Homo sapiens: one gene and its partners. The protein of the gene in region 3 purifies or fractionates together with the protein of the main gene of each other region. This does not show direct contact. Each region holds a gene or a part of one and is shown on either strand. Other genes may lie near its edges.

Evidence for each region.
Region 1: the proteins of ZNF704 (region 3) and SAP130 purify together in Homo sapiens (co-immunoprecipitation; 3 studies listed by BioGRID and IntAct, with this or other methods). This does not show direct contact.
Region 2: the proteins of ZNF704 (region 3) and BRMS1L purify together in Homo sapiens (co-immunoprecipitation; 3 studies listed by BioGRID and IntAct, with this or other methods). This does not show direct contact.
Region 4: the proteins of ZNF704 (region 3) and ING2 purify together in Homo sapiens (co-immunoprecipitation; 3 studies listed by BioGRID and IntAct, with this or other methods). This does not show direct contact.

Annotation. Positions count from the first base shown.
Region 1 is NC_000002.12:128,024,948-128,033,523, forward strand, and holds the start of SAP130 (histone deacetylase complex subunit SAP130), read right to left. Parts: upstream 3,113-8,576; 5' UTR 2,993-3,112; intron 2,360-2,992; exon of another isoform or gene 2,217-2,359; coding exon of another isoform or gene 2,145-2,216; intron 1,352-2,144; coding exon of another isoform or gene 1,346-1,351; coding exon 1,234-1,345; intron 1-1,233. UniProt on the Homo sapiens protein: Acts as a transcriptional repressor. May function in the assembly and/or enzymatic activity of the mSin3A corepressor complex or in mediating interactions between the complex and other regulatory complexes.
Region 2 is NC_000014.9:35,828,754-35,836,486, reverse strand, and holds part of BRMS1L (breast cancer metastasis-suppressor 1-like protein), read right to left. Parts: intron 6,693-7,733; exon of another isoform or gene 6,580-6,692; intron 5,807-6,579; exon of another isoform or gene 5,707-5,806; intron 5,078-5,706; coding exon 4,987-5,077; intron 3,510-4,986; coding exon 3,382-3,509; intron 1,644-3,381; coding exon 1,564-1,643; intron 1-1,563. UniProt on the Homo sapiens protein: Involved in the histone deacetylase (HDAC1)-dependent transcriptional repression activity. When overexpressed in lung cancer cell line that lacks p53/TP53 expression, inhibits cell growth.
Region 3 is NC_000008.11:80,871,677-80,879,369, forward strand, and holds the start of ZNF704 (zinc finger protein 704), read right to left. Parts: upstream 3,106-7,693; 5' UTR 2,895-3,105; intron 2,793-2,894; exon of another isoform or gene 2,369-2,792; coding exon of another isoform or gene 1,868-2,368; intron 1-1,867.
Region 4 is NC_000004.12:183,500,664-183,508,584, reverse strand, and holds the start of ING2 (inhibitor of growth protein 2), read right to left. Parts: upstream 3,528-7,921; 5' UTR 3,390-3,527; coding exon 3,218-3,389; intron 2,488-3,217; exon of another isoform or gene 2,319-2,487; coding exon of another isoform or gene 2,267-2,318; intron 1,735-2,266; exon of another isoform or gene 1,575-1,734; coding exon of another isoform or gene 1,568-1,574; intron 1-1,567. UniProt on the Homo sapiens protein: Seems to be involved in p53/TP53 activation and p53/TP53-dependent apoptotic pathways, probably by enhancing acetylation of p53/TP53. Component of a mSin3A-like corepressor complex, which is probably involved in deacetylation of nucleosomal histones.

The DNA of each region.
Region 1 (8,576 bases), on a different chromosome or scaffold from region 3:
GCTGTGATTATGCCACTGTACTGCCGCTTGAGTGACAGAGTGAGACCCTATTGCGCAAAAAAAAAAAAAAAAAAGCCTCAGCTACTGGTTTGAGCAATGAGTAGACAGTGGTATCATTTACCATAAGGAACACCAGAATCCAGTGGTGAAGAAAAAGGAATAGAAAAGCATTTATTTCACTTTGCAATGTCATATATTTACTTAATACATAGAGAAAAAGAGTATTTGAAGGAATTCCTCAACTTCAGCACTGCTGACTGGACTGGATACTTCTCTGTTGTGGGGGGCTTCCCATTACCTTGCAGGATGTTAAGCAGTATCCCTGGCCTCTACCTATCAGATGCCAATAGTACTCTTTAGTTGTGACAACCAAACTGTCTTTAGATATTGCCAAGTACTCCCCTGGAGGAAAAATCACCTCCCCAAACACCTGTCACTGAGAACCACTAATTTCTACCACTCAAAGGGTATAAGACTAAAAACCAAGTTTTATCTATGTGTATACAATCAGCCCTCTGTATCCATGGGTTCCCTGATGTGAATTCAACCAACTTTGGATGTTAAATATTCAGGGGGGGAAAAAAACCCTGCTTGCATCTGTACTAAGCACATACAGACTTTTTTCTCTTGTCATTATTCCCTTAGCAATACAGTATAACAACTATTTACATACCATTTACATTGTAGGAGGTATTACAAGTAATCTAGAGATGATTTAAAATATACTGGAGGATAGGTATAGGTAATATGCAAACACTATACCATTTTACATCAGAAAGTGGAGCATCATGGATTTTGGTATCTAAGGTGGGTCCTGGAAACAATCCCCCACAGACACCATAGGGAAACCGCATATCCTTTGTTTTCCACTTCTTTTCCTAGATAATAAACCCCTAAAAGACAAGATCTGTTCCTTAAACACCTCTGGGCTCCCTCACAGCACTAATGCTATACTCCTGGACATTAATTAAACAAGAATATATTAATGCATTTCAAAAACAGTTCTTACAGGCACGCTTTGCTATAAGTTGCATGTGTACTCTATGTGAATGAAGTGGTTAAAACAGGAAGGAAAAAAAGCCTTGTTTAAATTAGAATAGTAATATACCCTTTCTTCAAATTCAAGAAACAAGAATTTACTAAAATCCTAGAAGAATCTGCTAATTTTTAAGTTAGAAAACTGGTAATATTCTTAAAGTAGGAAAAAATATATTAGAATATTACATATCTCACCTGTAGCAGCTGGGTTTATCAATCCAGCAGAACCACTGTTTGCAATCTGAGAAGGGGCCTGGCTCAGCCCGGTAGAAGGGGCTCCTAACCGAGGAAACTGTTGAGAACTCATTTCCACCTGTAGTACATACAGTTATATGGTTATTACTAGATTCTGAGATCTGAATCAATACTGAGAAATTAAAGCATCTTTAGTACCTATGAGATAGTCCCTTGGAAAAGCAAATGCTGCATCATTTATTTAAAAACAATAACTTGGGATCAATATAAATGCAGACATTATCTAAACTACCTAAGTTTTCTACAAATATTGTTTATACGGAGCTGGCGGGTACTATGACCCTCCATAAATACTTGTGGATTGCTATGCTAAAAAAATCACCATTGAATCCTGTACAAGAGTCACATGACAGGTATTACCACAATGCATGTGTATTTCTCTGTGTAAAGTTTTATGGAAAATGGCATGTCTCTTTGAAACACTCAAATCTCACACCAAGGTGAACAGAACTGTGATTAGTATGTCATAGGAACATTCGGAGGAAGATATCCAGCCCTAAGAAAAGATCCGATATCTTACATCCAGACCCGATGCAAAAGGAATTCTCCAATGCTTTTCGGCAAAGGCCTCCATTTACGGATTTCCTTTTCCTTCTCTTCCACAGATCCCCTCACAGAGCCAGAGGACCCTACACCTTCTCCATCTTCCCTAAAATCGCCCCCCACTTTTCCCTCAGGAGCCAAGCGATCTCCCGATTCGCCCGCAACCCCACCCCACCGCGAAGCCCCCGCTGAGACCGGAGGACGCCGGTTTCCAGACACCTCGGAGTGTGAGACCCCCGTCTCCGGGGTGGGGGTGCGGACGGGCGATCTGGGGACCCGACCACAAGACGAGCACTGTGCCTCTTTACCTGTAGCCGCCGCCCGCCGCCCGCACCGCCCGCTTCTATCTCGCCGGCCTGGGGGTGCCGCGGAGGGCCCATCTCGGCGGCGGCGATGTGCTCGGCGGGCGCGGGGAGGGATCGCGGCGGCGGCGCCCGGGGCCCGCTGCTGTCCAGCCCCGCTGGCCCCACTCACCCCCGCCACCCGGCCGCCGCTGTGCTCGCAGTCCTCTTCCCCCGAACCTGCCCCTGCCTCCCCCGCCCGCCCATTGGCCCCACGCCCGACGCGTCAGTGGAGGCCCAGGACCAATCCACAGCGACCTGCACGTTCAGAGCCCGCCCCACCCTCCCGCCGACTGCCAGCCAATCAGGCGCGAGCCTGGCCGGGGCAGCCCAAACCCCTCGAGGCTGAGCCAATGGCAGAGGAAGACAGGCGCCCCCGGCGAAGGGGGCGGGGAGCGGGGAGGCCCCGCCTCAGCCAGGGTCTGAAAGCGGCGGGCGCAGGGCCCGGATGTGGAGAGTCACTTTAAACTGCTCCAGGAGCCAAACTCCCTGGGCCGGCCGCCCGCCCGCCCGCCCGCCCGCGCTCCCCCGGCCGCTCTGCTTCCCCGCCAAGGCCCACGTCCGCCACGCCCCCACGCCCGGGTCAGCCCACCCCTCCCGGTGCCTCTCCCTTCCTCGCCACAGGACACCCAGCCCCTGTCGCCGGCCCAACCGCCGTGACCAGCTCGCGAAAGAGCCGCGGTCCGAGCCGCAGGAGACGAGGATCCTCTGCCCTTCCCCGGGGACGCGCAACGGGACGGACGCTGCAGCCCGGCTCAGCCGCCCCGCCCCCTCGTCTCCTCCCCTTCCCTCCCGGGCGCCCGTCCCGCCATTACCTGGGTGCTGCGCCCAGTGGCCGCCGCGCCGCCTTGAGCTCGCTCCCGCGCGCTCTCCGTCTGTGGGGCCGACGTCCCCAGGCTCCGGACCCGCAGCCACCGCCGGGGAGCTAGCACTCTGCCCCCCACCCCTCACTCCAGCGCCGCTGCTTCCGCCGCCGTAACGAGCCTCCCGTCTATTGGCTGGCGCAGGCCCCGCCCCCTGCCGAGTCAGCCAGTCGCCGGTGGTCGTGAGCGGGAGAGCGGACGGGCCCGCCCCTCTGAGCCGCGGCGTCCTGTGGGAAATGTAGTCGCCGGAGTCAGGAGGGCGGGCCGCGAAGGAGGTGGAGAGCGCCGGGGCGGGGCCGCAGGCGACCCGGCCAGGGCAACACACCCCTTTGCTGTCTGAAGTCGGTTCTGCCTTTTCTCTTGGCTAAGTGAGAAGACAGTGGATCCCACCCTATGCCTTAACCTGAGGGCACTGGGTTTCATTTTCCCCGCGGGGAGGCGCGGCGCGGGAAAGGGTAATGGAGGCCAACTGCGGCGGCCAAGGGATCCGCGGGCCGGGCCAGTGTCGTGACGGTGCCCGCCTCCCTATGCCGCGAGTGGGACTCGGTGTCCCCACCGGGAACCGCGGTCGGCACAGCCTACGCGCGGCGGGAGCCGCCAGGCGCAGCGCGGGCGCGGCTCTGTGAAAGCAGGCCGGCAGGGCGCAGGGCTCTGGGCGGCCGGGGCGCACCTGCGCGCGCTTTCCGGATTATAAAGGAGCTGAAGGGGGCAGTTTTATTTTGTCATTTTGCTTGGGGTTCAGGGTTGGAGTTTATGCACCTGTAGAAGACTTAGCCATATCTTTTGAGGCCACATTTGTGTCTGATAAGAGATTAAGTCTCCCTCTTCCCTTACCAGATGGTAATTTAGGCCTGGAGTTTTGTGATTAGTTAGGAAATAAATGGGGCTCAAACCCCCCTCTTCCTATCATGCACAGCTGTGTAAGACAACTGCTTGGTTAGAAGAGAGTAGCTCCTGGCTATAGCCCAGGGATGAGTCTCAGATACTCCTCCTCTTCAAGCCACTTTCCTTTTCCACCTTCATGCCTTCATTCTCAAACTTCTAAAGAGTGACTCCTGTGATAGACTTCAGCCTCCTCTCTGCCTAGGCAGTCCTTATCCCTTTTGGAGTTGCCACTCTTCTCAGACTGCTCCCCAAAAGTTGCCAACACCTACTCAACTTCAAACCCATCGGTCCTCACTTAGATCTCATCTTGTTTAGCTTACTGACCAGTAGTAATTCCTCCTCATGTCTTCCCTTGGCCTCTAGAACCAGGCTGTCTCCTGCTTCTACTCCTATGTCAAGCTCCATTATACCTCCTCTTTCTCATAAATACAGCATTCTTCAGGGCTCCAACACGCTAATGCTATACTGCCTTCCTAAATGGTTTAATGTATTTCCACAGTTTCAAATGTCATCCTTTTTGTTTTTTGTTTTTTTGAGACAGGTTCTCAGTTCAGCCCAAGCTGAAGTCCAGTGGCGTGATCACAGCTCATTGCAGCCTCGACTTCCTTGTCTCAACTAACTTATTGCCTCAGCCTCCTGAGTAGCCAGGACTGCAGGCGCATGCCACCACACCCCACTAAACATATATATATGCCAGGCACGTGGCTCATGCCTGTAATCCCAGCACTTTGGGAGGCCGAGGCAGGCGAATCACCTGAGGTCAGGAGTTCGAGACCAGCCTGACCAACATGGGAAAGACCCCATCTCTACTAAAGATACAAAATTAGCCGGGAATGGTGGCAAATTCCTGTAATCCCAGCTACTCAGGAGGCTAAGGCAGGAAAATTGCTTGAACCCGGGAGGCAGAAGTTGCTGTGAGCCCAGATCAAGCCATTGCACTCCAGCCTGGGCAACAAGAGCGAAACTCTGTCTCAAAAATATATATTTATATATGAATACATATATTTTATATATATAATATATATTTTTGAGATGGAGTTGTATGTATATATATGTATATATGTATATATATGTATATATACGTGTGTGTGTGTGTGTGTGTGTGTGTGTGTATATATATATTTTTTTTTTTTTGAATAGAGACAGGGTTCCACCATATGCCCAGGCTGGTCTTGAACTCCTGGGCTTAAGCGATCTGCCCACCTCAGCCTCCCAATGTGCTGGCATTATAGGCATGAGCCACTACACCCAGCCTCAAATATCTTTGAAAATGTTACCTATGCATAGGTGACCTCTCCGAGTTGTATACCTATATTTCCGCCTGATGGGCCAATCCACACAGAAGTCTTAACAAGCCCCTCAAAGTTAATGTATTGAACACCTTTATTGGTTTGCCTCCCCTGTGTACTCCCCTTGATACCTGGGTTTACTTACTGGCATCACCATCCTTTCTGTCTTCAGCTTCATATATGTTCCACACTCTTCCATCTCCCACAGCCGCCATATTACATTGATATGCACCTCTGCCTCCTTTTCTATTGTTTCCATAGCTGTGGCTCAAGCTGCCATTATTTCTTATCTGAATTGCAGCAATGCTGCTGCCCCCACTGAAATCTCTTCCTACACCCACTATGTCCTCCAGAATTCTTTTTCTAAATCACTAATCTGGATCTATCCTTCCCATCCACGATGTTTCCATATCTTCGGAATATATTCCAAATCCCTATGCCCATTATCCAAAGGCCTTAATAATTTAGTCTCTCCTGCCTCTCCAGACACTGGATACTCTGCCAACAACAGTTTCTACTAGTTATCTGCGCAGTTTGGCTTCCAGCATTTTGCTCTGGCCTGAAGTGCCTTCTAATAGGCTAGGATGCTCAGCAATCATCTAGAAGAGTTCTGCCAATTCTATAATGCCTAACCGGAAATAAAACTGTTTCTCTTCGGCAAGAAGCCTTCCTCCAATTCCTCTCTTTTCCCCACCCTCTAGAATATTTCCATAGAACTTCCTCAGTACCTCTCTTACAGCACTGATCTGTGTCTGCCCATATTCCTCCTGGAGTAGGCAAACAGAGAAATTATTTGTCTTTATATCTCCTGTCAACAGGGTTTTAGATCCAGGAAGCATTCAATAAATGTTTGCTAAATATAATCACAAACACATCGGCGTTACTATATGATTGAAATTGGAGTTTTCCTGAGTTACTTGGGACAGTAGCTATGGCTTTATTCATCCATGTCTCTGGTCCTGCACATAGTGGACACTTAAAGGAAAACAGGTGCTTCACCCATCTTTTATCACTAGGGTTTAGAATTCCCATCAACTGAACTTGGTGTGCAGAAAACACACCTTGTGCCCCAGCCAGACTGAACCTTCTACACTCCTCAAGTATTCAAGCCCTATGCCAGTTTCAGGAGCTTACTAGTATTTGAGGTTCTTGAAAATTGGCCAGGCGCGGTGGCTCACACCTGTAATCCCAGCACTTTGGGAGGCTAAGGCGGACAGATCACTTGAGGTCAGGAGTTCGAGACCAGCCTAGCCAACATGGTGAAACTCCATCTCTACTAAAAGTACAAAAAGTACAAAAATTAATCCCAGCTACATGGGAGGTTGAGGCAGGAGAATCATTTGAACTTGGGAGGTGGAGGTTGCAGTGAACCAAGGTTGCACCACTACACTGCAGCCTGGGCGACAAAGCAAGTCTCAAAAAATAAAAAAATTAAAAAAAAGTGTTGTCCACCCATGATCTTTTGAATAGATTAAGCAGATATACAATAGGCATCATATCTGCTCGGTGATTTTCTAGAGAAAAGCAGATTCTCCACGTGAGTGTTCTGTGGAAGTCAGTCAGATGTCAGCGAATGGTCCCTGAGACTTGGTGATGTGATTGAAACCACTTTTGCAAAATCGTGACAGTGAGAGATATCTAACATAGTTGACTCCATCCTACTTCTGACCTCCACGCTGTCTTTGGTTATTCCTGGGTATAGACTCAGCTATGTTTCACAATTTATAGTTTAACTTGAAAGCAAGGATGATAATAGTCCCTTTCTAAAACTAACCCCCTCCTTGCTTGGGGACCAAAACCACCTTTGTAAACCAACGAAAGACCACAAGAATAGGATTATGAGAGGGGCCTGAACTCTGCTAAAAAGTAGTCAGTTTCTATAATCCTTTACTGCTCAGGAGTCATGTGGCCAGAGGTCTCAGATTTATGACTTCCCCAGTTGCTCCTATAGATAACATCACTGTTGTAAAGATTTTTTTTTGAGATATCTTTCATACTGATCCGATCTGAACTCGTGACTCATGGCTCTACTGGTCCTGTGGCCCTACCTAGAGGCAGACTCAGCACACGAGGAATGTCTTCCACACCCCTATGGTTTCATCCCCAACCAATCAGTAGCACTCATTCCCTATCCCCCTGCTTACCAAATTGTTCATAAAAACCCTAAGCTCTGAGCCTTCAGGGAGACTGGTTTGAGTGATAACTCTAATTCTTCCCTGTTGCCCACCTCCTGTCAATTAAACACTTTCTCTGCTGCAATGCCACGGTCTCAGTGGATTGATTTTGTCTGTACAGTGGACAGGAAGAACCCACTGGGTGATCCAACACTTTGTTGCATTTTTTTCTCTTAAAGAAATTTTTTTTTAAGAATTCCAGGGCAAACTGGTGGTAGTAGCCTGCAACTTTTTATTGAATAGTACTGCTCCTTGTGGAGCAGGGCTAACTCATAGGCAGTATGCCCAGTCAGCCAGGTAATTACACTTTGGTGGGCCTCTTTACCATCGGACCCAGACGGTTCTCACTTAGTCACTGCGTGAGCAGTCTAACGATACTGACTCTCTGCAGTTGCCCTCTGTCCAAATACTCCCCTTGACTCAACCTCCCAGTCAAGGAAAGCCTAGTTTCTTCCAGGTCACTTGTGTAACATGAGCATAACCTTATTTATCTCCAGCTTGTTGTGTAGATTAAATGAGCCATACACATAAAGGATGTGTTGCTTTTGAGCTTGCCTGTATCCATCGTTTTTACAACTTCCATCTGTTTATTACCCTGGGCAAACTCAAGAATCTCTCTCTTCCTGGTATCACATTCTATACCACTGTCCCCACCCCAGCAGCACCTATGCCAGGTGTGGCAGGAGACTCTAGGATGGTCCCGCGTGATCTCTTCCCAGTGGTCCTACCCTTATGTAGGAACCAAGGCAAAGGGATCATTCCTTTGCCTTGAGTGTGGGTAGGACCTGCGACTTTCTACTAACCAATGGCAAATGGCAGAGGTGGTGGGATGGCACTTCCTGTACGATGTTAACTTATACAGCCATGTAGTCCATGGCAATATTTTGGTCAAGGACAGACTGCATATATGACTAGTTCCATGAGATTATAATGGAGCTGAAAAATTCCTGTCATCTAGTGACCTTCTAGCTGTCATAATATCTAGTGCAAAGCATTACTCATATATTTGCGGTAATGTTGGTGTAAACAAAACAAAATGTTGGTGTAAAAAAAACTGAGCCAGGTGTGGTGGCTCATGCCTGTAATCCCAGCACTTTGAGAGGCTGAGGCAAGAGGATCCCTTGAGCCAAGGAGTTCGAGACCAGCCTGGGCAGCATCATGAGACGCCATATCTATTTTAATTTTTTT
Region 2 (7,733 bases), on a different chromosome or scaffold from region 3:
CATCTGTAGTCCCAGCTACTCAGGAGGCTGAGGCAGGAGGATGGCTTGAGGCCAGGGGAGTAGAGGCTGCAGTGAGCCATGATCATGCCACTGCACTCCAGCCTGGGTGACAGAGTGACACCCTGTCTCAAAACAAAAGAAAACAAAACACATCCCATAAATAAAAAGATAATAAATTCAACTACATTAAAATGTAAAACTTCTTTGCAGCAAGTCATCAGAAAGAGTGAAAACATCGTACCACCTGGGCAAAAAGATTTGCAAAGCATACAACCAGCAAAGCATTTATAGCCAGAATATATAAAGAACTTATATAGTCAATGAGGGAAAGACTAAAAGCCAACACAAAGGCAAGAAATACAAATAGGCACTTCTTAGGAAAAAATATCCAAGCAGCTAGTAAACGCCAAAAAGATAATCAATCTCAGTTGTAATTATGAAAATGAAACAATGAGCTCTATCATTTTTATACCTAACTACTCTTAGTTTACGGCACATTAAAGTGACAGAAGAATCGTTATAGAACTTGTCCTCTTATTTCTACCTGTATATCTATAATCTTGTCTAGATTTGATAAAAAGTTATCTGCAAAACGGGCACTATGGGGTTTTTTTGTTTGTTGTTGTTGTAGTTGCTATTTCTGAGACAGGGTGACACTCTGTTACCCAGGCTGCAGAACAGTGGCACAATCACAGCTCACTGCAGCCTCAACCTCCGAAGGTCAAGCAATCCCCTCACCTCAGCCTCCTGAGTAGCTAGGACTACAGCCACCTGCCACCATGCCCAGCTAATTTTTCTATTTTTTGTAGAGGTGGGGGGTCTCACTATGTTGCCCAGACTGGTCTTGACTTCCTGAGCTCAAGAAATCCTCTCGCCTCAGCCTCCTAAACTCTTGGGATTACAGGTGTGAGCCACCATGCCTGGGCACTATGTTTTTTAAATGCTATAAATATTTTAACCCATTTATGCCTAGTGTTCCATTACTGGAATGTTAAGCTTGTGGGAGTTATTTATATCCTACTGCTCAAGGTCATCACCAAGATCTGATTTTTCACACACACAAAAAAATTGCAACCTTCAGCATAAATGGGTTAAATGCAAAATAAACAGAATATACAGAAAAATATACCTATTTTTTTTCCCATAAATAGAGAATTCTGCCCAAAGATGTGGAAATAGGTCTAGACAGACAGAAACTAATTCTATAGCCCAACATCCTAACTGCACCATTGAGTGTATATTTCGCAAATCTAATCCACATTATACTAATTATACTAATATTTTCAGTAATGCCAGGTGACATAATCGTTGCAAAGTCTTTTTAAAGTAACAGCTGCAAAACTTCTAAAATTATCTCAGTTTTTTTCTATGGTCCTTTCTTTGTGTCCTATCTCCAATACAGCTTCCAATGCAACTCTATTCTTTTTTTTTTTTAATCACACACAAATGATGAGCTAAAGTACTATTTAATATTGTTTTACTTAGTTTACTTTTTTAACTACTACACTCAGAAAAGGCTTGAAGAGATGAAATTAGCTTAAAAGTTATGCAAAATGACAGTACCTCACAATGCTGGCGAGAAGCTTGAATTTCACATTCATATTTGTTCTTTACAGATTCTAAGCAGAGCTCTCTATAGATTCCTGCAACCAAACACAATTACTCTGATTATGTTAGCAATGAGAAGTTCCATTATCACTTCCCTACAGGAATTCTGTCCTCACTGTATTTAATAAGATGGATCAAGAAAAAATTGAAAAGTGAGTCTAACTTTGTCTTTAAAGACTAAAAATAAAAGGCTCACTTAAAATATATATCCAAAAAGATTAGAAATTATAAGAGCTAGAAAGAAACTGTACTGCTAGTTTTTGTTCTTAATCTATTCTTCTAAAGATTACTCCTAAATGTTTGATACAGAATAATCAAAATGAAAATAAAACTCTTTTCCTGTGAAAAACAATCTCTCAAGTTTCTCAAAATAGAAATGGAGATAATAAACTCTGGTGTCATCAATCACATATACTCAGAGTAACAGCTAGATACTATACCCCACCAAAACCACTTTTTTTTTAACTATCATTTTCAATCCAAAGAATCCACGAGGAGTAAATGTATATAAACTGATATAACAAAATCAATTATGTCTGGAGTGCTCCTGACAGGACTTTATCTAGAGGATGGATACCCAAGATAGTTTAACTTAGACCCTAACAGGACAATAGTATAAAATAGGTAACATGGCCATGCAAATATGTCACTACAAAAACGGCACGCAAAGAGCTCTGGATATGTATTCTAAGCTTTATGCCATAGTTGGCCCTAGAAATGTAATTATCTCTCTTTGTATAGTAAAGGCAAGAGACAGATATCTGGAACTACGTCATCAGCAACACATTCACACACACTACTCTGCAAAATCAAAATATAAAAGAGGCCAGAGTAGAAAAGTAAATAATCGACTCAAGTAATATTTCCTGATCATCCATGTAATCTAAAAGAACAAAGAAAATTAGGGATATTTTTACTTCTAAGGGTATGTTGTCAATATGTAAAGATAGCAGTGAAGAGTATCATATCATCTACATAATATTAAGCACTCAAAAATAAAATTTGGTTAAAGGAGGGTTTAGTAAAAAGAACTTATTATCAACAATGCCTTAGGTATTATCTAACAGGTACATAAGGGTCAATTAGTGCCACATAAGAGAAAAACAACCAGCATCTCCACTAATTAAAGTTTAGTTTTTGACTATGAAAAATCATATATATATCCCTTGATTATGAGTGCCAGGACATGATACTGAGGCTGGATCCTATTTACAAACATAAGACTGAAATGTAACCATACAAATATAGTGCATCTTTGTTTATTTGTAGCCACAAATGAGTAACCAAACTTATCAAAGTAAAAAGGAAAAATTAAATCATCTAGTTCAAGGCAAGTTTCCTGTTCTATAATATCCTGATCAAACATTTTTAAAATTTTTTATAAATTAAAAAAAATCCTATCACTTTTACGTATTAAAAAAATGCCTAGAACACTTAAACTTTATCTAATAGGGAATTAAAATGTGATAGTAACAGTCTCTCTTAATGAAAGTATCATGGTTTCCAGTTGTTTCACCAAATGTGGAACTATCTTCTCAACAACACTGTAAACAACTTGAGGGCTTTTTTTTTTTTTAATCCCCTACAGCAGCAGAGCAAAGCAAGAGGTATTCAATAAATACAGTAACTGTGGGCTAACTAAAAGTAAAATATTCTGGTCGATGTAAATATGCTTGTAATCCCATCAACATAAAACACTTACTTGATAAACACCTTTTAAAGCTACTGAAGAGTTTACATTCTATATATGGAAAAGATTCTTCACTTTCCTACCTGCTACCTTTGTACGAATTTGCATATTTTCCTGTAAAGTTGCCAGCGGTTCCAAGTATTCTGGTGCTTTTCCAGCTATGACTTCTTGTAGTTTTGCATCCACCTGACTTAATCGTTCTTTATAAAGTCTTAACAAAGCAAAAATTAATATGTTAATTTAAAAATCTCAACAAAGGCTAACAATTTGCCATTTCTATACATTATTTGTTCCCAATATCATTTATATTCTAATAATCTATCAAATATATTTTGCCTTGATCTCAAGCAGAGAACTCAGTTACATTATTTGACTTTATGCACATAATCACAAAACAGGTATCTATCTATCACTCTTTAATGGTCAATTCCCAATACAAAAAAATAAAATTGAAATAACTACTTTTTGGCACTATTAATGTTTGTTTTTGTTTTAACCACAGAACAATAAAACCAATTCTAAGAGAAAAGGTCATTTAAACACTGAGTTTAAAAGAAACAAAGAAATCATTTTGAATAGACATTACCAGTTGTCAAAATAAATAATTACTTGGCTTCTCTCTACCGTTCCTGAAAAGGAGTCAGTATTACTGTATTCAGCCTACTTAATTTTTTTTTTTTTTTGAGACGGAGTCTCGCTCCGTCACCCAGGCTGGAGTGCAGTGGCGCAATCTCGCTCACTTCAAGCTCCGCCTCCTGGGTTCACGCCATTCTCCTGCCTCAGCCTCCCGAGTAGCTGGGACTACAGGCGCCCGGCTAATTTTTTTTTTTTTTTTTTTTGTATTTTTTAGTAGAGACGGGGTTTCACCGTGTTAGCCAGGATGGTCTCGATCTCCTGACCACGTGATCCACCCGCCTCAGCCTCCCAAAATGCTGGGATTACAGGCGTAAGCCACCGTGCCCGGCCCAGCCTACTTAATTTTTTAAAAGAGCAAAGAGGAAGTAGACTAATGAAGGTAAAACCAATGTTTTTATGACCTGACATACTAAGTTTGTCTCAACTACAAATGAAGAAGCCATAACAAAATTAGTTGCTCAATGAACAAGGAACTCAAAAATGGGGCAGGAGGTCCCTGTTACTCCTATTTATAAGGCCACTTACAAATACTCTAATTTGCCAGCTGTCACCAATACCTTTAGAGTATGATACAACTCAGTGTTTATTTTTGGCAATAATCCTGCAGGACAGAACTAATTTTTTTTTTTTTTAAGACAGTGTCTTACTCTGTCGCCCAGGCTGCAGTGCAATGGCACGAGCACAGCTCACTTGCAGCCTTGACCTCCTGGGCTCAATTGATCCACCTGCCTTAACCTCCCAAGTAGCTGGGACCACAGGCACGTACCACCACATCCAGCTAATTTTTAAATATTTTATGGAGACCAGGTCTTCCGATGTTGCCCAGGCTGGTCTCCAACTCCTGGGTTCAAGCCCACAAAAAAACCCTGCCTCCAAACCCTCAGTTTAGTTAATGAGGTCTTTAGTAGACAAACAATAGTTGAAGCCTCTTTCAAATTGGTCTGTCGCATAAAATACAAAACAGCTGAGACTGAATCTAGTTGCTCTTGTGCTAGTATACAAGTGACAAGGTTGAGATTCAGTGACAATGGCCTTCTAAAGTCACTACTTACTGATCTTTGAGATCGGTAAACTGTTTTTCAAGATTGGACATTTCATCCAAACATTCCATTCTTCTTCTTTCACAGTCTTCATCATCCATTTCTGTTAATAAAAAGGCAAATATAAAAGATAAACTTAATTTTCAAATTTATCTGAACATCTCAAATATATCTGAACGTAATTCAAATAGGAAGAAAAACTGTAATATGAAGAGAAGACCTATATTAAGCCTTAAAAGAAAATAAACAAGATTTATCAAAAATAATAATTTCTGCTGGGCGTAGTGGCTCATGCCTCTAATTCCAGCAGTTTGGAAGGCCAAGTCAGGAGGACAGATTGAGCCCAGGACTTCAAGATCAGCCTGGGCAACAGAGGAAGACCCCATCTCTACAAAATATAAAAATATTAGCTGGGCACGGTACCATGAGCCTGTAGTCTCACCTACCAGGAGGCTGAGGCAGGAGGATCGCCTGAGCCCAGGAGTTGGAGGCTGCAGTAAGCCATGATTGTGACACTGCACTCCACCCTGGGTGACAGAGTGACCTAGTCTAAAAAAAAAAAAAAAAAAAATCCACTATAGATTTAATCTAAAATACAGATGAGTATATAAAACTATACTGGTCTCTAGACCCTCTTACTTTTATTCATTTTTAAATCACTTTAAAGGACTGACTATAAGCTATAACTATAAAGTAATTAGCCCACATTTGGTTTGTTTTCCACCAACTCACCAGAATGTAGCACCAAAATGACTGTGTCCTTTAAAGGCTAACATTGCTCAAAAACATTTTTGGGATTCTTCTTTCAGAACTGCTCACATGGCTGATTTGCCTGTCACATAAAAAAAGAAAAGTGGCCGGGTGTGGTGGCTCATGCCTGTAATCCCAGCACTTTGGGAGGCTGAGGCTGGAGGATTGCTCGAGCTCAAGCGTTCAAGACCAGCCTGGGCAACATGGTGAAACCCCATCTCTAATAAAAATACAAAAATTAGCCAGACATAGTGGTGGATGCCTGTAGTCCCAACTGCTCGAGAGACCGAAGTGGGAGGATCGTTTGAACTTGATAGGCAGAGGTTGCAGTGAGCCAAGATTGCGCCAGCCTGGGCAACAGAGATCCTGTCTCAAAAATAAAAAGTGAAAGAAAGGCCAGGCATGGTGGCTCACTCCTGTAATCCCAGCACTTTGGGAGGCTGAGGCAGGCGGATCACCTGAGGTCAGGAGTTCGAGACCAGCCTGACCAACATGGAGAAAACCCATCTCTACTAAAAATACAAAATTAGCTGGGCGTGGTGGCACATGCCTGTAATCCCAGCTACCTGGGAGGTTGAGGCAGGAGAATCGCTTGAACCCAGGAGGTGGAGGTTGTGGTGAGCCAAGATCGTGCCATTGCACTCTAGCCTGGGCAACAAGAGCGAAACTCCATCTCAAAAAAAGGAAAAAAAAAGAAAAAGAAAAAGGAAAACTAATCTTATTATGTTTACCACAGGCTCTCCTGGTCTGCCATTCCTACGTTCCCTTATTCCGTCTACCCATATTACTATCAGTGAGAAAGAGGCAAATGAGGAGGAAAATACAAACTTTTTAAGGAAAGCAACTGTTAATTACCAGGTCTGTCCTATAGTCCACATTTTCTATGTTCATATCACATATATTCATTCATCAAAATAACTGAAGCACAAAATGATCTGCATCTTGATCTTCATCAAATAAAAGTCAAACTATGAGAAAGAGTTAAATCATGTTCAATTATTTTTATATAACATGGAAGGCTGACTCATTTTTTTCTCATTTTCTAAAACAGATTAAAAATACTTCTGGCTTTTGATTGCTTACTTCTTGGCTACTCAAAACTTGGTCCCTCAAGATGACTCACTATCCAAGTTCTCTGGATAGTAGAGGCTTTTCCGTAGCCTTAGAATTTGCTCAGCACCAACATTTGAGAAGAAAACACTGTGAAAGTTTAACATGAAAGACATATGGTAGAACAGAGATGCTTTAACAGAAGCAAACTGCAAAATTTATTTAAACAATTTCTTTGCACTTAAAATTTTGACTTGTAGTTCAAATTATTATCACATTCTTCAAAAATTAAGTTGTTCATTATTTTTTGGGATGGAATTTTTAAAAGTTAAAAATCACAAGAGTCAACATAAAAATTATAGGGGGAGAATTTTAACAAATAGAATTTTATGAGATCCTTGCTCCTATCATAAATGCAAGAACATCTGAAGACAAAATACTTTATAGATCTAAGAAACATATTCACCAACAGGCCAGGTGCAGTGGCTCCCGCCTGTAATCCCAGCACTTTGGGAGGCAGAGTCGGGTGGATCACTTGAAGTCAGGAGTTCAAGACCAGCCTGGCCAACGTGGCAAAACCCCATCTCTACTAAAAACACAAAAATTAGCCGGGTGTGTTGGAGGATGCCTGTAATCCCAGCTACTCAGGAGGCTGAGGCTGGAGAATCTAATCCAGGAGGCAGAGGTTGCAGCGAGCCAAGATCGTGCCACTGCACTCCAGCCTGGGTGACAGAGCAAGACTGTCTCAAAAAAAAGAAAAAAAAAAAAGAAATATATTCCCATACAGTCTCCTTTCTCTATATTCCCCGCTTTTGAAATCTCACCTACTTTCATGGCAAGGCAGATGACTTACAAATTATTCTCCCCTTCCCATATCGGGCAGGTTCCAATGTCACATTTCCATTTGTCAGTTGGGCAATCTTAAGCATACTGCCATCACTCCAAAAGCAACACGTCGG
Region 3 (7,693 bases):
TAAATATTTGTTGAATAAATGAATGCATGAATATATGTAAGAGGTTAACATTCGTATATGCATTATAATAAAATTATCTAGTGATATTCCATTAGAAAATCTCTTCAGATACAGTGTCTTTAAAAGAGTAATTTAAAAGATAAACCTCAAATGACTCCAACATTCTGTGTAAATTTCTGAAGTTGTGGGCAAATGAGAGTGTTATAAAATGAAGCCCATTTTGAAAGAATTTAAAGGAAATTTACTTGAAGATGTGAAAAACCTTTACTGATCAAGTGAATTATCACACTCATTATTCTGTTTTTACGGATTTGATTTTTTCCCTATATTAAGCTTGTTTTCATCACAGAGCATAAATTATTATTGTTTCTATCACAAATTGTGCAATCACTATTCAAACCACAGGACACACTTTCAGTATTTCTGGACAAAAATGCTAAGGAGTCACTACTCTTGATATTCAATGTCACTGACACCATGTGACTTCATTTCAAACCCAGCTATATCTTGTAGCCATACAATGCAGGCTTTTCAACAGACCATGGTAATGAATGTGGTCACGGTTTGGATTTCAACAAGCAGCTGTCAAAAACTATCATCCCAAATAACTACTTGCTGAAAATTTCTCACTCCCAGAGCTGGTACTTCCAGGGTGGTCTAGGAAATAAATTTCTGCCCACATCTACTCTGGGGCTATTCTAATTGCCGATGTTCAACATTTCTTTGGAAATGCAACTTCAAGCTTTGAGGAGCTTTTTTTGGTGAGCCCCCAAAGCTTTTTTTAGTGGTCTCTAACTATTAAGCTCAGCTGTTCATGAGTTTTTTTTCTTCCTGAAATACCAATACCTTCTGAAAACTCTGGTAAAATGTTATTCAGCTGATTTTAGGAACCACTCTTGAGAAAAATCACTCACTCCATTGCTTACCACTTGCTGCCCTCAAAACTTCTTAGCAACATACACCGTGCATGAATCTCAACGTGGTTTGCTTTGTCCAATAGCATGCCTGAAAGCCCAACCAGTCAGTTGTGTAATAATAAACCCCTTATCTCCTGAAGATACACAAACGGAAAAATCTCTCGGCGCTTCAGTGTACAGGGGACTTCGCTAGAATTCTCAGCAGAAACTCACATCCAATTTAAATGCTACCCCCCACCCCCTTTTCCTGGTTTCCTCTTTTTTTCTCATTTGCAATTTTGAGGAGGGAAAAAAACCTCAAACGCTAAATGATGTCGAGTGGAAACACGGGAGGGCGAGGGTCAATGCCAAAAACTGCTAGCAAAATGCATGTGGAAACCAAGGGCTTGGATTTTGCTGTACTGGGTTTACCGGTTCTCTCACAAGCGCCTGTGATGGAAACTCATCGACAATTGTTCTTGGTTGGAAGAAGGGGCTGAGAGATTGACAAGAAACACCGCTTTCTGGTTTCAATAAGCTTGAATAGCCCTCAAAATAAGGAGAAGGGGACACTCCTTCCTTGGGGGAGAATAAAATCTCACTCTCCCCTGCCTCACCCGTCCCCACCGGGCACGAACCGGCGCCTCCGTGGTCCCATCACCCAAGTTCCCCACCTCACTGGGGAGAAGCGCCCTTTCCCGGCACCCACACCAAACAACAAACCCGACACGGCCTTTGAGGAAAGCGGGAGCCGCCGCCTGGGAGAGACGCAGGGGCCCAAGGCGCAGGCAAATCAACAGTTCCTCGCGCTGCCCCGCGCGGCCGCCCGCGCCGCCTGACACACCCCTCCTGGCCGGGTCTCTCCCCGGCGCCGCTGACCGTCCTCGGCCAGGCGCCTTGCCCCGGGGCCCGGGCCCGTCCCCCTCCCCGGGCTGGCGGGTCCCACGCGCGCCACCGCGCCCAACACGCACCTTCAACGCGCCCCGGGCCGGGCCCCTGGGGACTGCGTGGCCGGGTCCGAGGGGCACGAAACGCTCCTCGCCGTCCTCGTCGTCTTCGTCGCCGTCCACCACCTCGACGACCACCTCCTCGTCCTCCTCTTCCTCGTCGTCATCCTCCTCCTCCGCGCCCCCTCGGGGCTTCTCCTCCACACGCCCGAGCCCCCTCCGCCGCCTGCTCCCGCCCTCCTCGTCCTCGTCTTCCTCCCCTAGAAGCAGCAGCACCGGCGACGAGGCGGCGGCGGCGGCCCCGGTGGCCCGAGGGGGGCCGGTCCCGGCGCTGCGCGGCGGCGGCGGCAGCGGCGGCCTCCAGCTCTCCGGGGCGGGCGCCGGGGCCGGGCCCGGGACAGGGGGCGGGAGCCCGGGTAGGGCGGCTTCCTTGGCGGGCGCGGGCGCCGGCCCGGCAGGCTGCAGCGCGGCGCCCCCCCGGCGGCTGCCCAGGCTGGAGCGCTTGGCTAGACGCCGCGCCTGCATGCCTGAGCGCGGGGTTGCGGGCCGCGGCGCGGGGCCGGAGAGTTTGTCACCTCCTCTTCCTCCTCTGCCTCCGCCGGTGGCCGCAGGGCCGGGGACTCGCGGCCGCAAGGGGCTGCAGGAGCCGCCGGCCAGGACCCGCGGCTGCCACTGGCTGCAGAGGCGCGGGCGCCGCCTTCGCTGGACCGGCCGGCGGGGACGCCGGCGGCCGGCGGCTACGGCGGGGCGGCGCGGCGGCCGCGGGCGGGGGTGGGTGTGAGCGAGCGGCGCGCTGCCGCCTCCGCCGCCGCCGCCGCCGCCCGGGAGCCGCGGGCCGCGCTGCGCTCCATGCGGCCGGCGGCCGAGCCCGCGCGCGCCTCTCCCGGCCGGCTGCGCCCGCGCGCTCCGGGCCTACCGCTGCCGTGCCTCGGCGCGAGCTGTTTGTGTTGTATGTTTTCCACCACCGCCCCCCTCTTCGCGAGCCATTCCTCACAACCCTCCGGTCCCCCCGCTCAGACAAAACCCGGACTGGATTTTTTTTTTCTCTTACCCACAGTCTCCGAAAGTCTGGCGCTTCGAAGCAGTTGGCCCTGACACCAGGGCAAACGCTTAACCGCAGCCCATTCTTCCCTCCGGAGGGAGGGGAGTAGACTTCGCTGGAAGTAAGGTTGTCTGTCAAAGTTAGACTTTGAACGTAGAGATTTGCTACAAGTCATTTTAATGGACACTGATGTGCATGGCAGCTACTCCTGAGCTTGTGTGAAATCAAGGAAGGTGTACCAATCTGAGGTTTGGGATGAATTCCTAATATGAATCATCAGAGTCGCTTAGATTTTCGAAACACTGTTTCATGAGCGATTGTCTACCAATCTCACACTCTTTGAACGCACCACTCTAGGCCCTGCGATTGAGCTGCCTTGGCTCTGTGCTGAGTGTGTAGGTCTTTCAGCTTTTACTCCTGCTATTCTACCTTGAGTGCCTGATTTTAATGGCTGAATTCCAAGAAGCTTTCTGTTTGCACTGTCTGATCTGTAGACTCTCTTCTGGCATTGTTCAGGACTTTGAAGAAACAAATGGGTGGGAGTTCAAGATCGTTTGAGTTGGTTACTTAAGAAATTAATATGAAGTAAGACCAAATCTGGAAATCAAGCACATAACATGACTAATTTTGCCATTTTCTGACGATTTTTAGGTGTGATAAAGAAAATATATTTGCTATTGCGTGGGGTTAGGCTATGTAGTAAGTGGTATTTCTTCTTTTATTTATTTTAATTTTTATTTATATATATTTCTTTATTTTTCAGATGGAGTTTCGCTCTTGTTGCCAAGGCTGGAGTGCAATGTCATGGTCTGGGCTCACTGTAACCTCCGCCACCTGGGTTCAAGCGATTCTCCTGCCTCAGCCTCCTGAGTACCTGGGATTAAAGGCGCGCTCCACCATGCCATGCTAATTTTGTATTTTTCGTAGAGACAGGGTTTCACCATGTTGGCCAGGCTGGTCTCAAACTCCTGACCTCAGATGATTTGCCTGCCTTGGCCTCCCAAAGTGCTGGGATTACAGGTGTGAGCCACCGTGCCCGGCCTTAAGTCGTATTTCTTACATTCAAATCATACCCCCAATTCCATCCCTGTAGAGGAGGGCTGGGGAGGATCTTACGCATCAAATACCCTGGTAGGCACCTCCGTGGGGCCAGAATAAAAGGTGTATTCACCTTCAGTTAATTATTGTTGGACATTTAACATCATATGCTCTGTTAGACACTTGAATGGGGCTCATTAAATGCTCACTTATGGTGGCTTCCAACTGTTGAACAGGGATGATGACAAAGATTCTAAAATGAACTTTTTGTTCTCCCTGAATCAGATTAGCTTCCTGATGTACCTATTTCAGGTGATGAAACTCTCATTATAATCATTTGAGCCCAAAATAGCGGTATCATTTTAACTCCCTTCTCTACCTTATCCCTAGAGGCAATTGCCCACAAGTCCAACCCATTGTTCTTTCTAAAATGCATTTTGAATCCACCCCTTCCTTTCCATTCCCAAAGCTCTTACAGCATTTTGTGACTTCAAAAGTGGAAGTTTCTAACAGTTCTACACACCCATTTTCTCACCCACACACCCTCCCTTTCCCTCCTCAGATGCCACCACCAGATTTATGTTTCCGAAACCCCATTTAGATCACACCATTTTCTTGTTGGACTTTATATTTGTAAATATTCTGTTCAGGAATTCAGAGAGAAGAAAACAGAACATTAAGAGATGGGTGTGTCTGATCAAAGCATGGAATAGCAGGGGCTAGCCAATAAGTGAATAATCAGTATCAGCTAGAGTGTGCAAAGAATTAAGAAAGAACATTAAGGTGGTTTCATCCCAATTGGAAGAAATTTAGCTTCGTTGATTTGGGAGATGATTTTAGAGTGAGGCAGCAGGATCTTTCTCTGGCCATGAAAAGGAAAGATCGGGGCAAGGGGTGGGCAGACAGGTATGGAGGAGGTGGAGGAGGACAAAGGTGTGAGGCAAGCTGGCTAGTAGTTAGGCACATGGTCTCAGGAGCACCTAGGTCCGAATCCTGACTCTGGAACTTACCAGCTTTACTTTTACTCATCCTCTTTCTGTGCCTGTTTCCTCATCTGTGAAATGGGGATCATAGTAGTAAAGTTGTTTTGCAGAGTAATGAGTGAATAAATGCAATCAGCTTACAAGAGTGCCTGGGACAAGCTAGGGTTTATATGCGGGCTTATCATACTAAACATTGTAATGGTAGGTAAACAAGGTGGCTTGGGATACTCTCAGAGAATAACAAGGTAGCTCTCTTTTAAGTAAGCTCAGTAATGTCAGTAACTAGCAAAATGTGCTTTTAAAGACCAACAACTTGTCATCGGAGGACCATGGTCAGGCCAAGCATGTAGCTTTTTGTGCCTAAAATTGCTATAGATGAAAGAAAGTAAATGTTTTCCTGAGAACCTAGAGGAAATACAGAGTTAAATGAATTGGTGATTGGCATTTGTGACTTAGTGAAAGATGATACACTATTGTACATTCTTTTAAAATTGCTGTATATGCTTTGAAATCAGCTTATTGTTTCTCTTAGGCCACTTCAATAGACTTCATAGACATCCATTCCCTGGCCCCACATTGCTGGAAAGGCTGCCTCTGAATGGGAAAAAAAAAAAAAAAAAAAAAAAAAAAAGACCTGGCCTTGGCTTTCAAACCATTAAATGAAGGCTAATGTCAAAAAAGAGGTTTCACCCAAGCTGGGCTTTGAGGGATGAGAAGGATCTGTTCAGGCAGGGAGAGCAGCATTGTCTAGGCAAGTGCAGGCCACTGAAGACCACCCTCATTAAATCAGAGGACACTTAGTGGGAATAAAATCAAATTAACTCATCAGGAATCAAGAAAAGATCTCATGATGTGGGCACATGACACACTACATGCATGACATGGGCTCAGAAGTCAAAAAGTATCTTGTGATGCCAAGCAAGTGGGGAAGAGTCATTGCTGCTTCTTTCCCCCACATTCCCTAAGTGTAACACATTTTTTTCTTCCAAAACTGGGAGCGCTTGCCACTCAGAATGAGGAAATGTGCCTCTGAGCCATGGGATAAAGAAGGAGCCCCTCCAGAACAGTTGGATTGAACACATCCTCATCTAAAACATTTCATCGTTCATTCTGCATGGATTTGTTGAGTCCTGACAAGTGCCAGGTCTTGTTCTTGGTGCTGGCGTGCAGCAGCGAACAAAATAACCCTCCCTCGGGGAGGAAGCAGACAATAATCAAAGAAGATAAGTGAACAATATGATTTTGTGGAGGCATTAAGTGTCTACATGAAAAAGTAAGGGAAAAATAAAAGGAGGGGTAGAAGGTGCTGGAGGTTTAGTATAAAGAAATGTGCATTTCAAAGCGTATTTCTTTATATTAAAACAGACATAAGAATAGTGTGAAGTTTAGTGTGAACTTTGAATGAAAACTCGCAGCCCTGGACTCTGTCTTCTTCCTGCAGATAGAATCCATTCTCCCCTACTGTCCGCGTGCTTTGGTCAAAGTTTGAGAAGCACTGCTGCGGAAGAACGAGAGTAGGCTTTGGAGTGAGCATCACTCCCTAAACACATAGTAGCTGGCTGGCTCCTGTCTGGTTTCTTCAGATCTCCAGTGATTCTTAAACCTTTGAGTTCTGAGCCCTAAAGATAACTAAAACATTTTTTTTACATGTATCAGAAAGAAAGAGAAAGAAAGGAAGGAAGGAAGGAAGGAAGGAAGGAAGGAAGGAAGGAAGGAAGGAAGGAAGGAAGAAAATCAGGCTCAATTTGACATTATGTTCAGTGTTTTTTTAAAATTTAAGATTCAGCAAAATAATCATGTTTCCAAAATCAAGAGGTGTAACCATAGCCAGAACAAAACATATAACAAATTTGTACCCACTGGTGGTAGTTCTTTTTTGTCCCTGTGAAACTTTAATAGTTGGATTTGTTGAGATTAGTAGCTCCTTTTAAAAATTATTTTAAAAGTAAAAGTAAAATTTTGCCCTTTAAAAAGCTTATGAAAGTAAGATTAGCTTAGTTTTTCCACAGTTCTGGGAAACTTAAAAATGATTTCATTTGATGACTGTCATCCCACCGTATGAAAAATAGATTAAGGTTAAGAGAATAACTCATCTATTACAACCTTCAGGCTGAAAGCCTGTCTAAGTCAAGCATAATCTCCACCCAGATAAATGTTTCTTCCATGAGCAATTAACTTAAACTCTCTTTCAAAACACACAGTACTTTCAAAATACTAGTTCCTTACAATACCTCTCAAAGACTTAGGTTTTTTTTTTAGTGAGTGTTAAAATGATAGCATTGCCTTCTTATTTATGTAACACATATTTACTATTTCAGTAGGTGCAATTTTGTCTTTGTTGTTTCCTGATCAGTTTAGTCATCTCATATTGGCACTTGAGAGGCAATAAATAGAACGCTGGATTGAGATTCCAGAGATTTGAGTTGAATCATACTGTGGGGATTATTAGCCATGGAACACTAGTTAAGTCCCCTGATCTCTGCAGAGTTCACAACTCTAATATGAATGAGTTGTGCTCCCCAAGGAGCTCTCTCATTTTAACTCTCAAGTTCCATGATATAAAATGTCAACTTGAAGTCTGTTTTAAGATTAAGCCAAATACCCATTATTAAAATCCACAAATGGAGTCTAGTGTGTATGTTAAGAAATGCATGTCAATTTTTTTTTTTTTTGAGATGGGGTCTCGCTCTGTTGCCCAGGCTGGAGTGCAGTGGCTCAATCACAGATCACTGCAACCTCTACCTCCTGGGCTGAAGCTGTCCTCCCACCTCAGCCTCCAGAGTAGCT
Region 4 (7,921 bases), on a different chromosome or scaffold from region 3:
GCAGGTACTCGTACTTGATGTACAACTGTCTAACTTGGAATATATAACAAAGTGCCACCACACAGTTCAGAGTACTTACACCTGCATAGCATATTTTCGAACAAAGTTCATGTCTATTCCATTTGCTTAGCTCGGCATCTAAGCAGATTTCTTAAGAACCTCATTTCCCTACAGGAAAAATAAGGAAACTGGTTCCCTCAGACACATAAAAAATTGAGGATTAAAAAAAAAAGAGGCAAACCTCTTTTCAAATATTTTGTACCTAATAATCAGGTGTTAGAGGCTAAGTACAGTATATATCATACCAGCACATTGATAGATGAGATAAAAAATTTGTAAGATACCGTATTATATAGTGAAAGAAGACAAGAAATTAACATTTACTCAGCCCCTTCTATGTGGTAAAGATTTTCTCAGTTAATCTCCACAGCAACCCCATGAGGAAGCCATCACTTCTGCTTGTGAAAAAAACTGCAACTCAAGAGATAAGAACCCCAGACTTTGAACTGTGCCAGATCTGTATGTCTGACCTCGCAGTGTAAGCACTTTCTATAAACTATATGAAAGGCACTTGAAATTAAGTATCAAAGTTTAGTTTGAAGGTTGTTATTTATCTAAGAAATTATGAGTGGGAACACTAGAATAAAAATAAAGGTTCTCTAATAACCCTATCCCATAATAAGTACTTCAATTGTGAAATTGTTTTCTTCTTTATTTCTCATTTTATAAGTTTTTCAGCAGTTCTGAAAGTGTCTCAAGTAGGTTAGAAAGAAATTTGACTGCCTATATAATTTATATCACTAAATATTGCTAGAAATATTAGATCCAAAACCAGAAAATACTTAAGCACTAGTGAAGATATAAAAAACATGAAATCTGAACCCAAAATATACATAAACATAAAACTGTGAAAGTTGAGCTCAGTAACCACGTGCAGAGTGAAAACTAGATGAGTTTTTAATCACTAATCACAAACTTCATAGAGCTAAGAATTTGTATAATCTCTCAATCTTGTAAGGCCTACTATATTACTAATGTTACCAGAGCTATTAATACCTGACAATTATAGATGATCCGAAAGATTTCCCTGTCAACAAATTATAGTATCCCTCACCAACTTCAAATAGCTTAACTCTTGTGAAAGGAAACATGTGCCTTCAAAGAAATGTAAAAACCTGCAAGCTTGCTGGGCGCGGTGGCTCACGCCTGTAATCCCAGCACTTTCGGAGGCCGAGGCGGGCGGGTCCCCTGAGGTCAGGAGTTCAAGACCATCCTGGCCAACATGGTGAAACTCCGTCTCTACTAAAAATACAAAACTTAGCCCGGCGTGATGGCAGTTGCCTGTAATCCCAGCTACTCGGGAGGCTGAGGCAGGAGAATCGCTTGAACCCGGGAGGCAGAGGTTGCAGGGAGCTAAGATCGAGCCACTGCACTCCAGCCTAGGGGACAGAGCAAGGCTCTGTCTAAAACAACAACACAAACTACAAGCTTTACAAACTTTGGTGTTATCTGAAAAACTAGAAAGGTTCCATATACAATTATTAAGCACGTATCATTTTTAGGTTACCATTCATGTTTGTGCTCCATATCTGTAGAAATCCCCTTGGACAGTTTTTATTAAAACTTAAATTGTTTGAAAACAAAGATATGCATCTACAGTAGCAGGCTCTGGAGCCAAATATTCTACATCGAATTAACTGGACGAGTTACTTGAACTCTTTGTAATCTGTAAAAGAAATATTTATATAATGGTCTGGACCCAGCGCATCAGTTTTAATTCCCTCCCCACCCCCTCCCCAAACACGGATCAGTCCTATGAATCCTATGGATTCAGAAAACAGAAACAAATTTATAAACTAAAAAACATCAGACACTTATGTCACCCAAGAAGTGGATTCCTTAGAGACTTTTAAAGTATAGGATTACTGGCGTGTCTACAAAAACAGAGAATGGGTCCAGGAAATTATCTTTAAAGTTCGTATGGCTGTTTCCATACTATGTTCAAGGTCTGTTCCTCGATTCAAGGTTATTAAGCGCAACACATTTCCCCTTTTAAACTGCCCTCCTAGTAGCACCACCGATAGTAGGTGGTAACACTGTAAGGAAGGTCGATTCTGTCCCGGGTTCCCGGGTCGGCCGGCAAAGGGTGGTTTCGCCTCCACACTTAAAGTCGGAGAAGGAGGGGCTCGGGGACGCCAGGCGGTTGCCCAGTCAACCAACCCACTTCCTCCTGAAGCCCGGAAGTGACACATGTCCCGGAACCTACGCGGAGCCAGGATCCGCGACGGTCCGAGCTGCTGATCGCCGTCCTGATCCATTGACTGGGAAAGAGGTTGGAAACATCACCGCAAAACATGCTGCAAACCCCGATTCGGACTCCGCTGGGGCCGAACCAACGCCCCCGCACAGCCCCGACTCCCTCCCCAGCAGCCAGCTCGCCACCGCCCCTCTCGCGACCAGCCATTTTCCAGGCCCGCGGGAACGCGCGCCGCGCCCCTCCCACGCCCCTCGTCAAGCCCGCAGGCCCCGCCCCCGGCGCGGGGGCCCTCCCCGCCACACACGCCCCTCTCTTCCTCTCCCGCGGGGGACCCCTCCCCTCTTAACCATTTTGCCGAAAGAACTGGGCTAGGGCTACAACGCGGGGCGCCCGCGAACTTTCCCGGGGCGAGAGAGCGGAACGGACTGCTCTCCTCCGGGCCGGGGCAGGAGCGCGGAGGAAGGCCCCCTCAGTCCGCCTCCGCGGCCTCTCGCCCCCTCCCCCCGCACGTTCCAAAGCACCCGCACTCCGGGGTGGGGGCGAGTGAGGTGGGGAAGCGCGCCCCGCAGACCAGCGGGAGCCCGGCCGCTCACTCCCTCCGACCCTTGCCCGGCTGCAGTCCCGGGCCGGGGCCGCAGGGTCTGCGGCACGGGGCGGGCCAGCGCCTGAACAAATGCTTGCTGCTTAAAATGGCTGATTCCCCTCAGCGGCAGCTGCAGCCGCTGGGTCTGCAGCGGGGGCTGACAAGCGGCCCCCACCCCCACTCTGGGGACCCCAGAGAAGTACTCGCCCACCGCGGGGCCACGGAGGGCCGCCAACCCGGTCTCCAGTCCTCCCAGTCCCGCTCGGCAGACCCTCGGTGCGCTCGGGGAGACTGTCACGGGAGAAAGGGAAGGTGGCACTCCCCCGGACAGGCTCCCCGCCACCGGCTCCCGAGGCCGGCAGCCCCGCGGCTCCTACCTTGATATTTGTTGTCCAGCTCTCGCAGCACAGACACGTTCCTCTGCATGTCGTGGGGCAGCGACTCCACGCACTCAAGGTAGTCCTGCACGTAGCAGGTGAGCAGCCGGCTCCGCTCCCCGGTCAGGAGCGCGGCCGACGAGTACAGTTGCTGCTGCTGCTGCCCTAACATCCTGCCGATCCGCGCCGTCGCCGCCGCCTCCGCATCCAGCAGCCGCACATGCACCGGCCGCGGCCGCCGCGGGCCCTCAGCTCAGCAGCCCGGCGCCGCGGGGACCCCGCAGCCGCTCGAGAGGGCACGGCCGCGCTCCCCGATCTCCACTCCCCCCAGAGCAGCCCTCACTCCCCGCCCCCGCAGCACCAGCCCAGGGGCGGGGCGAAACCGGGGCTCCCTCCTTTCTCCCCTCCCGCTCCAGGACCGGAGCAGTGGGGATCCCCTCGGCGGGGCCGGCGCCGGGGTCCCGGGCGCTGACACTTCCTGTCCCCCTCGGAGTCCCCAGATGCTACGAGTGCCGTCTCGCAGCCCGGATCCCCATGACAAGCCCGTCGCCGCCCGCCTGTCCCCAGTCACCCTCCGTGCCTCACGGAGAGCCTCCCGCTAGCCTGCCCCCGCCCCTCCGCCCGCGGCCGCCTCTGCGCCTGCGCAGCGCTCCCTGCGAATAAGGCCGGGGCCCGCCCCTACCGCCTACCGGAGGGTTCGCATTCTCCCGCCTTCGCTCCGCCGCCCGGGCGATTGGTCTGCCGGCTCTGGGCTAGCGGGGGAGGGTGTGGGGGGCGGCCAAACGGCAGGCCGCGCCCCGCCCCCCTTAAAGGGGAAGCCCGGGGAGCCAGTCTCTGCGCCTCGCGTCTGAATGGGACCCGGGAGGGGAGGCGGCTCGGTCCTTCGTGCCGTCCTCCCCGCTGGGAGGGGCAGCTCCAGCTCCGCTCGGCTCGCTCCGCCCGGCCACACCGGCTTTTTCCCCATCAGGCGGTCCGAGTGCGGCTCCTCGCGAGCCTGCAAAGGAGCAGCAGGCGGTTCCTTTTCGGACGACCTGGAGCGAGGCCTGCGGGACTGCGCGCCCCGGCGGGCGGCGTGCGGCTCCCGGCATGCGCGGCGGCTGCGTTCCCGCCGCCTCCGAGCTCGCCTGGGGCTGCCGCCCGCCTCCTGCCGGGCCCTCGGGCTCGCCCGGCACCGCGGGGCTTGATCAGGGAGGTAGGCGGTGCTCCCTCCGGCCCCCGGCGTCGTGTGCCCTGCGGGTTTCGTGGCCCTTCCCCTACGCTGGAATCTTCTGTGTCATTTAGGGGGAGGGGATGCGGGACGGCATCTGTTTGACAACGCATTGGTCCCACAGACAGCCTTTAAAAACAACTGCTTTTGGGGGGTGTCAGAACATTTAAGCACAGGACGTCGGTGAGGCTTCCTGGCGGAGTGGGGCACACGCCAGCTTTACGGGACTTTTTGCTCAGTCCTGCCCCAGGACTGCAATCGGAGGGGACCTGGGGCATGGAGGAGACGCGAGTGAAAACCTAGTCAGCGGGCGGGCCCTCGGCCCCATAATCTACGTGATCTCCTAGTGGGGTTTAATTTCGGTGTAGTGTAAATGAGATGTCAGGCAGAGGAGCTGATTTTAATTACAGATGGACATTTTTGAAAGAAATGGGTGCAAATAGAATGAATGCATGGATAATTTTAATGGAATGCCTATGTAAACAAGGCCAATTGTGAGTACTACCTTTGAGTTAAAATGTGAGTGAGTGGTGACAAATTTGGATCTTCTTAGATCCAGTTTGCAGCGTTGGTACACCTGAATGGTGACCTATTTAGAGCACTTTTGAAACAGCTGTTAATAGTAACTAGCCTTTGACTTGCAAAGAGAAATCTAGATCTTTATCTAGAGGAAATTTTAAATTTCAAACCAAAATAAAGCACTCCAGGCAATTTGACATCTTGGGACGTCAACTATTTCAAAGGACTGGGAAATTGTCTTGGGTTATTATCCTAGGACACTGAGGTTTGGGCCAGTATTAAGCAACCCAGACAGTACAGTGGATAGTATTTCTGAGAACATTCTGGGATTTTACTGTTCGTGAAATCTTTCGGCCGGGTCTTGTCAAAAAACCGCCACTGTGAAGAACTGAATTTTACTGGTTTTTACTTGAACCCTGCTATTTTTGTTTTCTCACAAGTTTGAATAAGCTGGTCTTTATCAAAGGCGCAAAATAATGTGGGGTGCCTTGTTACAGGTCAGACACCGAATGTACCTATGGATTTTATTCAGTCTGATAAGTGATCTGCAAGTAGATAAGAAATGTGTTTAGAAACTAGAAGGGGAAAAAGGCAAAGATGCAGAATACCTAGAGTACTCCAGAAACAGAGCAAGATGAGAGGAGGGATGAGCATGGGATAGGAGACATTTATAGCATTATTGTCACCTTTTATAATTCTGTTGAACAGGCTGGTAAAAAAGCAAAAACAATCCAAAGAATATTTTAGCTGGTACTGATCTAAAACTGTAAAACACTGTAATATGATAATATATGTATATGTATGAATTATTTTAGGCATGCTTTTCTTGCTATATTTATTTTAAGAGATTAATCTACGGCTTATTCTTGCCACCCCCAAAAAAAATCGCCACAAACCCTAAACCCAACTCTTGACCTTGGTTATTGAGCGCTGTCCTTCCCTTCTGAGTGGTCACTTAACTGGAAATATGGGGCCTCTTCAGATTGAATTTCTTGTCTTCTAAATGCAAAATTTAAAATCTCCCGTTCTCAGCAACTAGAAATTAATTTATGGTATTTAATCCTGTGAATAAAGCAAAAAGGCATTTTATTTGCTCTACAGTGTATTATCTACCATAAAGCAACCCTAAAAAAAAGATAAGTAACTGATCTCCCCAAATTAGTCTGGGATTACCTTGAATTTCTAAGTCTGACTTTAAGAGGTCCCTGGCAGGAAATGTGTACGCCTCCGTACCTGTCTCTTGGGGAGAGCAACAACTTCAAACTGGTTGAAAACAAACTGGCAAGTAATGGTGAAAGATTCCTAAAGATGCCTGCTGAGAAAATTCAGCTTCTGTTTGAGTCAGATCAAATAAATGAAATCCTTTTCTTTTTTCTACTTTTTAATATTTTTAAACTTTTATGGAAATTTTCAAAGGCAAAAGTAATACTACAATAAATCCTTATATACCGTCTACCCAGCTTCAACATTTAGCAACATATGGCTAAGATTATTTAATCTATAGCCCTTCACATTCCCTCACTCTTGCTGGATTTTTATCATTTTATCTGTAAATACTTTAAATATGAATAATATGAATAGGTAAAATATAATAGTTGTTTTTTGTTTGTTTGTTTTTGAGACTGAGACTTGCTTTTGTCGCCCAGGCTGGAGTGCAATGGGGCGATCTTGGCTCTTTGCAACCTCCGCCTCCCAGGTTCAAGCGATTCTCCTGCTTCAGCCTCCCAAGTAGCTGAGATTACAGGTATGTGTCACCATGCCCAGCTAATTTTTGTATTTTTAGTAGAGAGGGGGTTTCACCATGTTGGTTAAAGCTGGTGTGGAACTCCTGACCTCCAGAGATCCGCCCGCCTTGGCCTGCCAAAGTGCTGGGATTACAGACGTGAGCCACCATGCCTGGCCAAGATAACAGTTTTTTAAGCATATCCGTAATACCATGTATTCTGCCTCCCCAAATTTTCTTACTATCATTTAATAACTACACAATTCAAATTTTCCTATTGTCTCAGTAAATCTTTCACATTTGGTTTAACAGGATCCAGCAAATCCCATGCATTTTATTTGGTTACTGAGGTCTTTTCCAAACCAGTAAGAGGCAGTTAATTCCCTGTTTAATTCAGTGAAGCAGAGAGCAATGTTTTTCTGAGGAAGATATTTAAGTAGTTTAAAATCACTGCTTTAAATATGGAGAAATTCAAGAAGAAATCCTCATATGAAAAGTCACCAATTGATAGCGTGTTGTAAGAAATGTAATTGTACCTGATGCAAATAAATAAATCCTTAGTAATCTAGGAGGCTGTGTTAGAGTGTAATTTGTTCTAGAAGGTCCAGTGAAGCATCTTAAATTATAGTGAAAAACCCTAAAACTTTAAATCAATTCATTAGTACAAAAAGCAACTAAAGAAAAACCTAATAGTCCTGTAATCCCAGCACTTTGGGAGGCCGAGGCGGGCGGATCACGAGGTCAGGAGATCAAGACCATCCTGGCTAACACGGTGAAACCCCGTCTCTACTAAAAATGCAAAAAATCAGCTGGGCGTAGTGGCGGGCACCTGTAGTCCCAGCTACTGGGGAGGCTGAGGCAGGAGAATGGCATGAACCCGGGAGGCGGAGGTTGCAGTGAGCGGAGATCATGCCACTGCACTCCAGCCTGGGCGACAAAGCGAGACTCCGTCTCAAAGAAAAAAAAAAAACAAAACCTAATGGTGTGCGTCTCCACTGAACTCAGTTTTAAAGCATTAAAGCATTTTTTATTACTTTATTACATAAGTAATACACATTATTGTAGAAAAAATTTAAATAGAAATAAAAAGATATATAAAAGTCACTACAAACTGGAGATAACTCTTCTCAATATCTAAATATACTCCAAGATGTAATTCCATTTTAGCAGTTCTTTTGCTTTAAGAAAACACTTTGGCTAGGATTGAAGTACAAAGTTAGGCCAGGTGTGGTGGCTCATGCCTGTAATCCCAGCA